3 linked regions of the Homo sapiens genome follow. The protein of the gene in region 2 purifies or fractionates together with the protein of the main gene of each other region. This does not show direct contact. Each region holds a gene or a part of one and is shown on either strand. Other genes may lie near its edges.

Region 1 (3,652 bases), on a different chromosome or scaffold from region 2:
CCCCATCACCTCCCTCACCCCATCACCTCCCTCATGAGCTCACCATCACCTCCCTCACCGTATCACCTCCCTCCACCCCATCACCTCCCTCAACTCCTCACCATCACCTCCCTCACCGTATCACCTCCCTCCACCCCATCACCTCCCTCAACTCCTCACCATCATCTCCTTCACCCCATCACCTCCCTCAGGAGCTCACCATCACCTCCCTCACCATCACCTCCCTCATCAACTCCTCGCCATCATCTTCCTCACCCCATCACCTCCCTCACCATCATCATCCTGGGACACACTGCTCTCTGTCCCCTCCCCTTCTCTACTCTCACTCCCTTGGTAATCTCATCCTGTCTCGGGCTTGCGAGAGGATGCAGGTATGAACAATGGCCTGCTCTAGACCTCAGCCCAGTCCTCTCCCCTCAACTCCAGACCCCTACTCAACCACTTGGCATGCCCGTTTGGCTATCAAGCAGGTACCTCACACATGACCTGCCTCACACCAAACCCCTGGTCCTGTGCCTGTGGCCTGGCCCATCTCAGGACACAACAACTCCAACCGTCCAGGTACACAAGCCAGGAGACTGGGAAGAATCTATTTAGATTCACCTCAGATATTCTACTAAATCCAAAGTTCTCCACCAGTACACACACCCCAGAAATAAAACAAAATTTAGAAGGAAACGCAACATACAAAGTCACATAGGCATAGAAAACCTCCTGTCTCGAGGTGCCGGGAACTGTCCTTTCAGAACGCAAGACAGCAGGCATCCCTGCTGTGGGGCACTGCCCATCCTGCGGCCACTGACAGGTCACTCCACCCCCGCCCCCACCGCGAGGCTCTGTGGGGGAAAGCAACTGTCCACTCGCCCGCAGGACACGCTGCACCAGTTTTCAGGATTTCATTGCAGGGGCTCCACTGTGGATCCACACCACACCCTCCCCACACCTGCAGCTCCCCTCCCACCCCCAGAGGCCAGCACTGAGCCTCAGGAATGGTGCAGGTCCAGTAACTTTCGATGCCTCTCATTTTTACTAACTCACTCTTCCCTGTTTTTTTCTGTTTTCCTCCATGTTCTCCTATTTTCCCTGCAATGGTAAATGGTAAGCGAACCACTGAATTGCAACATTGAACTTTCTCCCCCCAGCGTTGTCTCTTCCTGCTGTCTGTGGCTCTGGCTTTGGCCCTCTGCTTCTGTAGCTGGGGCACAGCAGTTCCTGGCAGCCCCATCCAGAAAACCTTCTCCCTGGGACCTGGTCCTTGAGGCCACAATGCTTGCTCAGGCCTGGCCAGCTGTAAAGCCATGTCCCCACTAGATGCACTGAGCACCTCGGGACCACGGCACCAACACAACTTTGCCCACTAAGTGCCTACCCCTCCCACATAGGGCTCACGAGGGGTTCAGAAAGCAGGGCCAGGAGGGCACGGCAGGGGAGGCGAGCAGTCCGCAAGCACTCAGCTGCCCTAGGACTGCTGCACAGAACCACAAAACAGATACAATCCGGGTAAGCAGAGGTCGTGAGAACACCTCAAATTGCTGTCCTGCAGCGAGAGGGACAGAGATGTGAGGGAAGCCAGCACCAGCATTCCCACTTCTACAGAACCCAGCAACACCAGCATCCGCAGCAGGGGCCCAAGGGGTGTGAGAGACACCTTCATCTCGGTCTCCGCAAACCACCACGACGGTAGGCGGGTAAGACCGAGAACTTCTGGTACTACACATCCTGCTGCTTGTTCAACTCATGCCGGCATCTCCCACATGAGAATTGACAAATTAGGATCTGAGCAGTAGTCGGGGACTTTAAATCTCCCAGCCCATTCTCACACTGTTGTTTTTATTTTTCCAATCTGTATAAAAATAATCTCTTCTCCTTTGGCCCAAAATGCCGGCCTGTTGCCTGACAGCCTGGCTCCCCACTTCCTGACCACATGACAGCAGGCAAGTAAACAGTTCCCCAGACCCTCAGTTTCCTCATCTGCAAAATGGAGAGAGGCAGAAGATTCATCTCACAGAGTTGCTGGCAGGTGCGGGTGGAATCATAAACATAGTGGTCAGAACAGCGTGGCAAGAACTCAGCCAGGCTAGCTATTAGAAACGATGGCTGTGCTTTTTCTCCTCTACTTTTTCTGTTTGAAAGCATTTTGGATTTCATTCTAACAACATCTTCAAAGACCCCACTGTATGAAGTCTCCCCTCCAGCTGGCTGCCGCAGAGGTGGGAGCTGGCATTTCCTGAGCACCTATTTGGTACCAGGCTGGGAGCTTCCCTGTAAGACAGGCACATCGGCCCATTTCACAGGTGGGAAAACACAGGCTGGGGTGAGAGGATGCAGGCCCACTGAGGCCCCAGGCAGCAGGGTGTGGAGGTGGGACTGGAACCCACAAATGCACACCCAGAATGTGGAGGTCGGGGCAGAAAGAAGGCCCACCACTCCCTCACATTCACTGTTTGGCCCCTCACTAAAATCTTTCCTTTTCAAGTAACCTACCAGCTAATGGGTTTTGAAAAGAAACTTCTCAAAGGGAGCAGGATAGGAACTCTAAAATTTCAATCAGCCAACTTGGGTATAAGTCATTTCTCTAGCTATTCAAGAGTTAAGTACAAGCCAGGCGCAGTGGCTCATGCCTGTAATCCCAGCACTTTCGGAAGCCGAGGTAGGTGCATCACCTGAGGTCAGGAGTTCAAGACCAGCCTGGCCAACATGGCAAAACCGTGTCCCTACTAAAAATACAAAAATTAGGTGTGGTGGCGCGCACCTGTAGTTCCAGCTTCTTGGGAGGCTGAGGCAGGAGAATTGCTTGAACCTGGGAGGCAAAGGTTGCAGTGAGCTGAGATCGCACCATTGCACTCCAGCCTGAGCAACAGAGTTCGCAAAGCTATTATGTGAACATTCAAGGCCTAACCACCTCAAAACACAATTTAATAAACAATGGTCTAAGCTACCCAAGGACTGGTGAGTTCATGTGTATCCTTTCCAGATTGCAAGCCCAGTGACTCACACGCAGGAGCATGTTGGTCAGTTCAGCAAATATCCTACCCAGGCCACAGGGAACAAGGAAGTAGGTCAAACGCTGGCCAGTGAGCCCCATTTCAGCACAAGCAGTGCTGGCCCTAGCAGGAGGCTCCAGGCAGTGCAGCCTGGTGGTTAGGAACCTGGGCTGGGGGCCAGCTGCCTGGACCTATCCACTGCAGGGTAACCTGGGGCAGTTACTCTACCTCTCAAGAACCCCAGTTCCTGGCCAAGCGTGGTGGCTCACACCTATAGTCCCAGCACTTTGGGAGGCTGAGGCAGGTAGATCACCTGAGGTCAGGAGTTCGAGACCAGCCTGGCCAACATGGTGAAACCCTGACTCTACTAAAAATACAAAAATTAGCCGGGCATGGTGGCACTTGCCTGTAAGCCCAGCTACTCAGGAGGCTGAGGCAGGAGAATCGCTTGAACCCGGGAGGCAGAGGTTGCAGTGAGCCGAGATCGCACCACTGCTCTCCAGCCTGGGTGACAGAGCGAGACTCTGTCTCAAAATACAAACAAACAAAACATCCCGTTTCTGAAAATTCAGGAAACTAGGGAACCCACCACCTAGCAATGCTGTGGCAATTAAATCCGTTGTGACGTGAAAACCCTTGCCAAGTAACCATGAACTGTCAGCTGTTAT
Region 2 (3,752 bases):
AAGGCTGCATAATATTTCACTAATATTATGCACACATCATAATTTCCTTAGCCATTCCCTTCTGGTTGACCATTTAGGTTGTTTCCAATGATTTACTGCTCTAAGGAATGCTTTGAAGAAGAGCTTCCTGTGTATTTGGGTTTTTGTTACATTCCCAGAAGTGGGGCAGTGGGTTCTTACAGACTTAATGCTTAAAGGGCATCCACTTAAAAATAAGGATCAACAGCTTCTGATCAGTATTTCTTAAAAACGACCTTTGACAAAAGTAGAGTTTTCTCTAGCCATTACAGAGATGGCTAAGTAAAAACACAGAGCCTGTTTTTACTTATCACATCCTTAGCACTCAGCTTGCCAGCTACTATCTGCAGCTACCAAAACTAGGCAAACAGTGCTCTTGGTCCTGACGCCTCTATTGACCTCTACCCATGCTCACATTACTGTATCTCAAATCCCTAAGAGCTGCTTGGGATGCTGATCACGGTGAGGGCAGAGAGTAGGCTCAGCCTCTTCAGGGTCTTCCCCACCCTTTCATATCTCAGGATCCAGCTTTCCTGACGAGAAGCCTTGTCTAGATAAGGCAGGGAGGCCCTGGTGCCTACAAGTTGATCAGCCCAAGTCATCTTAAGCCCTGGAACACGCAATTTAGACGGACACTTCCAGAGGCAGACAGGTCCCTCCCCTACTTTCTGATTTCTCCCTTTTTCCCCAGACTGGAGCAAAACAATATTAAAACAGCCTGGGTTACACTTTATTGAAGAGGCCAGCTTAGGACGACTTTAAGAACTAGGTGACCACAGTCTTAAGACAGGCAGGGGCAAGGCTGTAAGATTTTACTCTCAGCCAGTTCACACTCCTAACTGTGAGATCAGGCCTCTACAGACCTTATGGGCCTATCAAACCCAAAGAAAATTTCCTGGAGGTGCCTACTCAGAGGGGCTCCCTCCTGGTCACTCCTTATAGCCTTGCTCGGTCCAGGGCAGGGTGGGTTCGGTCTCTCGGTGAGAACAAGAGGAACACATTTAGCTCTGCATTATGTATTTAGGTTGAGAGAAACAATTTCGAATGAATGGGGGTCTCTCCAACAAAGCAGTCTAGAACGGGCCCCTGAGGTTTGAATTCAGGCCTTAGGAATGCCAAAGCTCACTGAGCGATTCTGTTTGCAAACCCACCCGCCACGGGGACGGATTTTCCCCGAGACACTGTCACCCATGCCTCCAGCTCTGGGCATACCCCACTGCGGCCCCTCCCCAATGACCTCCCCTGCCCCTCGCGGACCAGCCCATCCTCAAGATAGTACAACTTTCCGGGCCACCCCACGTCTCCTCTCGCCCCCGTCCGGTTGCTTGGAAATGTGCACGGGACGGTGACGTCACACAGGGAGGCGGGTCCCCACTGTCCCGCACACCAATGGCGCGGCGGCCGCCGGCCTCTTGGTTCCCGGCGATTGGTGTCTCTGGCCGCTGCGCTCCACCCCAGCCCGCCATGGCGTCAGGCGCCGCGGCCCCGGGGAGGTGGCTCCCACTTTAAGAAGTGAAGTTTTGCGCCCCTCCCCCTCCCTGCCCACCTCCTGCAGCCTCCTGCGCCCCGCCGAGCTGGCGGATGGAGCTGCGCAGCGGGAGCGTGGGCAGCCAGGCGGTGGCGCGGAGGATGGATGGGGACAGCCGAGATGGCGGCGGCGGCAAGGACGCCACCGGGTCGGAGGACTACGAGAACCTGCCGACTAGCGCCTCCGTGTCCACCCACATGACAGCAGGAGCGATGGCCGGGATCCTGGAGCACTCGGTCATGTACCCGGTGGACTCGGTGAAGGTGAGGCGCGGGGAGACTTCGGGGACGCAACGAGCGGAGAAGGAGCGCGCGCGCGCATTTGCATCCCGCGCGCCGGCAGCCTCGGGGCAGCGTCCCGAAACCGAGCTCTCCCCAGGACCGCGGCTGGCCGGGGTCGCCCCAGGAGCAGCTGCGCGCAGCCTGGGCGCCGCGCCTTCCGCCGACCCCGCGAGGGTGCCCGGTCCTCGCCCCGCACCGCCCGCTGCTCCAGCCGCGTGCCCGGCCCCGGCTGCTGGCGGCGCTGAGGCGGGGGAGGCGGAGTGGCGAGCACCGCTGGCTTCGGCGGCGACTGGGCTCCCGGGGGACGCGATCGCTGAAGCTCTGCACAGTCTTACCACGCTGGCCGTTCGGGCTGGCTGGGGCCGCCCACACGTGCGCGGTTTCCGAGGGAGCTCCCCGCAGGGGAAGCCCTCACCACGCTGGAGCTGAGAAACGTGTGGCCCTGGCCCGGCCGCGCGCCCTCGGGACTTGGTGTGTGGCTGCTGCTCCCCGGGTTATTTCGGGAACTTGGGGCCGGCAAGTCTTCTCTCGACTAGTGGCAGCTCTTTACCGGTTCGACAGCGGCCCGTGGGATCCCCTTTCTGAGGGTTCCTGCACTTCTTCCCCCGACTTTGGGTCGCCGAGCCGCCGGGAGGCAATGACGTTTGCCTTCTCCTTTTGCTTGCGGGGAGGTGGGTGGGCTTGTGCCTTACAGCCCTTGCTGTGGATTGTGTGAGAGGCACTCAGTTTCCTTTAAACCCTGTCTGTCACTTGCCCCGGTAGTTTTAACTGCATTTCTGTAAAGAGGCAGCGTTACTAGGTGCGTTTTGCCTGGTAGACTGAGACCTGCCCTCTGTCAGCCTGCCCAGAACACCCCAGGGCCAGGATAGAGTAGTGCAGGAAGTAATGCCAGTATTGACTGTTACACGTTGCACTTTTATAGGCATAACTCGCCTAATTCATGCAACAGCCCTGGGGGTTAACAGATGAAGAAACTGAGGCGCAGAGAGGCGAACCGATTACCTTGCCCAGGCTCCTACACCACCTCCTATCCTCTGGCTGCAGCTGCAGTGTGCTTTGGAGGATTCGGAGGCCTCTCTAGGTGGCAATTATTTTGCAAGGCAGGTCCCACAGAGGCACCCCCAGCAGCTTTATCTTGTTGCTGATGCTGGTCCTGCATGAGCAGGTATGAAGGCCAGAAAGTATAACTCAGAGGGTTTTCCCGGCTCCGGGGAGCTCGCTTGGAGCCAGCAGTCAGTGTCTGGACAGGCAGAAGTCCAGTGAGGAAAGACATGGGCTTCCAAGGTGCTGCTGGACCTAAGCCTGAGCCATCACCCATATGTCCCTCCAGTGTCCCAGTGGGGAGTTAGAGGAATGGTTCTCATCTCCAGGAAAGACACTGGACTGATACCAGGTGGCATTTGTATGGGAAAGAATCCCTCAAATGTAATAAAATTCTCCATGATTGAAGCTGTTGTCTCAACTGCCCTGGGCAGAGTCTGGGGAAAGTTAGGAGCAGGGAGGTGTTATCTGAGCAGGCCCTAGTCCTACTGGTGTCTTGAGATGAATGTTCTATTCGGGAACCCCACAGTGAGTTCACTTTAGAGCATCATTTTAGCTTATTTTTAGGATTAGAAATAATTAGTTGTGCCTTCTGAGCACCCTTTGACACTCTCAAGAGGCGTTTCTCACACGTTTAAATTGTGTGATCTGTGTTTAGTTTCTCCCTGCCCCATACATGTTGATATGTTTTGGTTCAGATGTCACCTGTATACTTAGTATTACTTTCCATAGCAGTTTTCACCTGTGGACAGGTTAACATGGTGTGAATGGTAGAAGGAGCCGGTCTGGTTTTCCTAGACAAGTCTGTAAAACAAGGCGTGGGTTAGCTAATCAGTGAAGTCTTCTAGGTTCTGGGATTATAACTGACCCTTAGGGGCCCTTCC
Region 3 (2,784 bases), on a different chromosome or scaffold from region 2:
GGATAAGAGGATTTTACATTTTTAAAAAATAAATCAATTAACATTCATTGTCAAATAACCTACAAGAAAGTTCCACTAGCATTCTGCAATTGTATAGAATAAGAGAATATTTGTTGCTAATGATTACATTCCAGAAAGCAATATGTTTAGCAGCTGTTTTTCAAAAGACTTGTCAAGTTTTACTATTGTTATTTAATCCAGGCATAAATGTGTAACCTTAAACAAAAACTGTGCATTATTCAACCAGCTAGTGACAAATTATCTTAACAAAGTAGATTATCTTTTGCTTTTCTGTACATGAATTTTTTCTTTATTAGGCATTTTGTATTCCAATTTTTGTTTTAGAATTTAGTGCACACGTAGAAAGGGGAAGAAACGCTTTTGGATGTTGGTAATTATGTACATCAAATAATGTCATATATGAAATTAAAAGCAGATCACAAAACCGAGATTCATGCCTCCATTTTTACCAAGGGGAGGAAACAAGAGCCATACAGCCAGAATAATTCTTCAGAAGCACACTTTGTTATCAATTATGTAACTAAAGAATCAAAGTATGTATATATAACTGAAGAGTTAATCAACAGTAAGACCGTGATCTACATCTGATACCAATAAGAAGCTAAGAGTAATAAATACCTATCCTGACATTCACTAAGTAAATAATGACTATCATTTTAATAATCATTATTTTTTCTGACTGTTATTTTTTTTAAATAGGCAAAAGAGCAATAATAAATGGCAAATGTGGCTCCTTAAAAAGAAGATAGGGATCAACCCAGTTTTCTTCCCATGAAGAATAGGAACAAGAAGAAAGAGGTTTAAATTGCTCTGTGAGGTATTTCAGTTCTAAGATTAAGCTTCCTGATAATGAGTTTACAACCCTGGAATTGCCTATTGGGAGAGAGAGAGAGACCACCTTGCCTGAAGTTTGTAAAGAAATGGAGGGTGACAGTAGTAATGCCCAAAGGCAAAAGGATGGATCAGACAAATGAATTCCTTTTAAGGCACCCTTTCAGAAATGGAGTTCTTTTCTTTGAAGCCAGGAAAGTTTCTTTGTTTTGTCTCTTAAGGATCTACACTTGGCATCAGACCATTCAAAGTCTGCTCTTAATTAAAGTGAAAAAGAACTAATATTTGAGTGCTAACTGTTTACCAAGCACTGTACTTTCAACTTATCTCATCTAATTTTCACAATAATCCTGACAGGTCTATCTCATAGATGAGAAGATTGATGCTCAAATATTGTGCTTCGTCTAAAGTCTCAGCTAATTTGTGGCATACTAGAACTCCTCACACCTAAACTAGTGTTTCCCCTTCTATATAACTCCCCACATCACTCTCCAAAGTGTCAAAGTCAGCAACCACCACCGATTCCGTCAGGAACTAGAACACAGCATCTCCAAAAATTCTGCTTTAAATCAATGGAAAAGTAAAATTTTGGCTCATACCTCAAGAAGTCAAAGAAGTGGTGACTAGCCTTTGTGCTCTGACCTCTTGTCCAAAGGAGTCCAAGAAAGTCTCAATCAAACTCAAATAGATTTGTCACCATACAGATTTAAGACCAATGACTTAAAAAAACAAAACAAAACCATAAAAAAAGACCAATGAAGAGCCGTCTATCAGCCTTGCAAGGGTGAAAGTTATTTTGCAGGTGGAATAATTTGGGCCATAGGCTTCAATAGCAAAAATTGCTTACAGTTACCTCTAATTTGCAAGTCAAAAATACTTGTTTTTATTGCTTTCCACATAAAGCAATTTGACCTCAGTTCTTTTAAACTCATGTATTCTCAAGAGAATCAAACCAACTAAGGAAATGTCATTGATACTTTTCTAAAATAGATCTTGTGGACTGCTTTATGTCAGTGACCCACCAGCCCATCTCTCTTGGGAGTTGGTCTGTTTGTGAGAACTTTAACAGAAGATTCTGCTCTGTTAAAAAGGCCTATCCTAAAATCTTGAAAGAGACACCCATTATTTATTAAACAGAGCAAGGCCTATGTTTAGCAAGTGATAAATGAATATACTTCATGTAACTTCTACTAAAACAATACCTTTTGATTCAACAGGACATCAATGAATGGACCGACAAAGCAAGTCCAGCATAGGGCATAATGGAGGGCCAGTCTCTTGGCCTAACAACGTGCAACCAACCTCTTCCCTGAAAGATAAAGGTGGGATGCACTTGTGGCAGAAGAACGAGGCCCCATTAAAAAAATCATTAGCTATGAATTAACAGATATTTAATTGAACATGTTATGAGAGGCAAAGTACTACATACAACATGGAATTTAGGTTAATAGGTCACCTGCTCCAATCTCCAACCAATTGGATCCTCTCCACATCTTTGCCTCTTGACAGAGGCTATTACCTGAGGCAGACTGTCCCATAGTGAACCAACTTTTTGAGAATGGTCGCCCTGACATGGAACCCAAATCTGTGTCCCTACGGCCTCATTCAGTAGGCCTCATTCCACCCCTCTGAACCACAGAGCATCTTGTTCTAATGCACTAATTGTATTCCCCTCTTTTTCCTAACCTAAGTCTCCCCAAATCCTTCAAGTATTCTTTAAATGGCTTGCATTTAAAATTCCTTCATCAGACTGGTAATGCCTCAATTTGTTTTTAATTTCAAAGTATGGCTCCTGGAAATGATAATAACATTCCAACATCAAGGGACTGAGGAGAGGAGATGAAATGCCATCTCCCTTACTCTAATGTTGCTATATTAATATGTGTTTTGAAGGGATGATAATTTCTTAATTCAGTATGAAAAAATTACCAG

What was found.
Region 1: the proteins of SLC25A37 (region 2) and TMEM181 purify together in Homo sapiens (affinity purification with mass spectrometry; one large-scale study listed by BioGRID and IntAct). This does not show direct contact.
Region 3: the proteins of SLC25A37 (region 2) and RAB30 purify together in Homo sapiens (affinity purification with mass spectrometry; one large-scale study listed by BioGRID and IntAct). This does not show direct contact.

What each region holds. Positions count from the first base shown.
Region 1 is NC_000006.12:158,563,025-158,566,676, reverse strand, and holds part of TMEM181 (transmembrane protein 181), read right to left. Parts: intron 1-3,652.
Region 2 is NC_000008.11:23,527,404-23,531,155, forward strand, and holds the start of SLC25A37 (mitoferrin-1), read left to right. Parts: upstream 1-1,552; 5' UTR 1,553-1,599; coding exon 1,600-1,809; intron 1,810-3,752. UniProt on the Homo sapiens protein: Mitochondrial iron transporter that specifically mediates iron uptake in developing erythroid cells, thereby playing an essential role in heme biosynthesis.
Region 3 is NC_000011.10:82,975,144-82,977,927, forward strand, and holds part of RAB30 (ras-related protein Rab-30), read right to left. Parts: 3' UTR 1-2,784. UniProt on the Homo sapiens protein: The small GTPases Rab are key regulators of intracellular membrane trafficking, from the formation of transport vesicles to their fusion with membranes.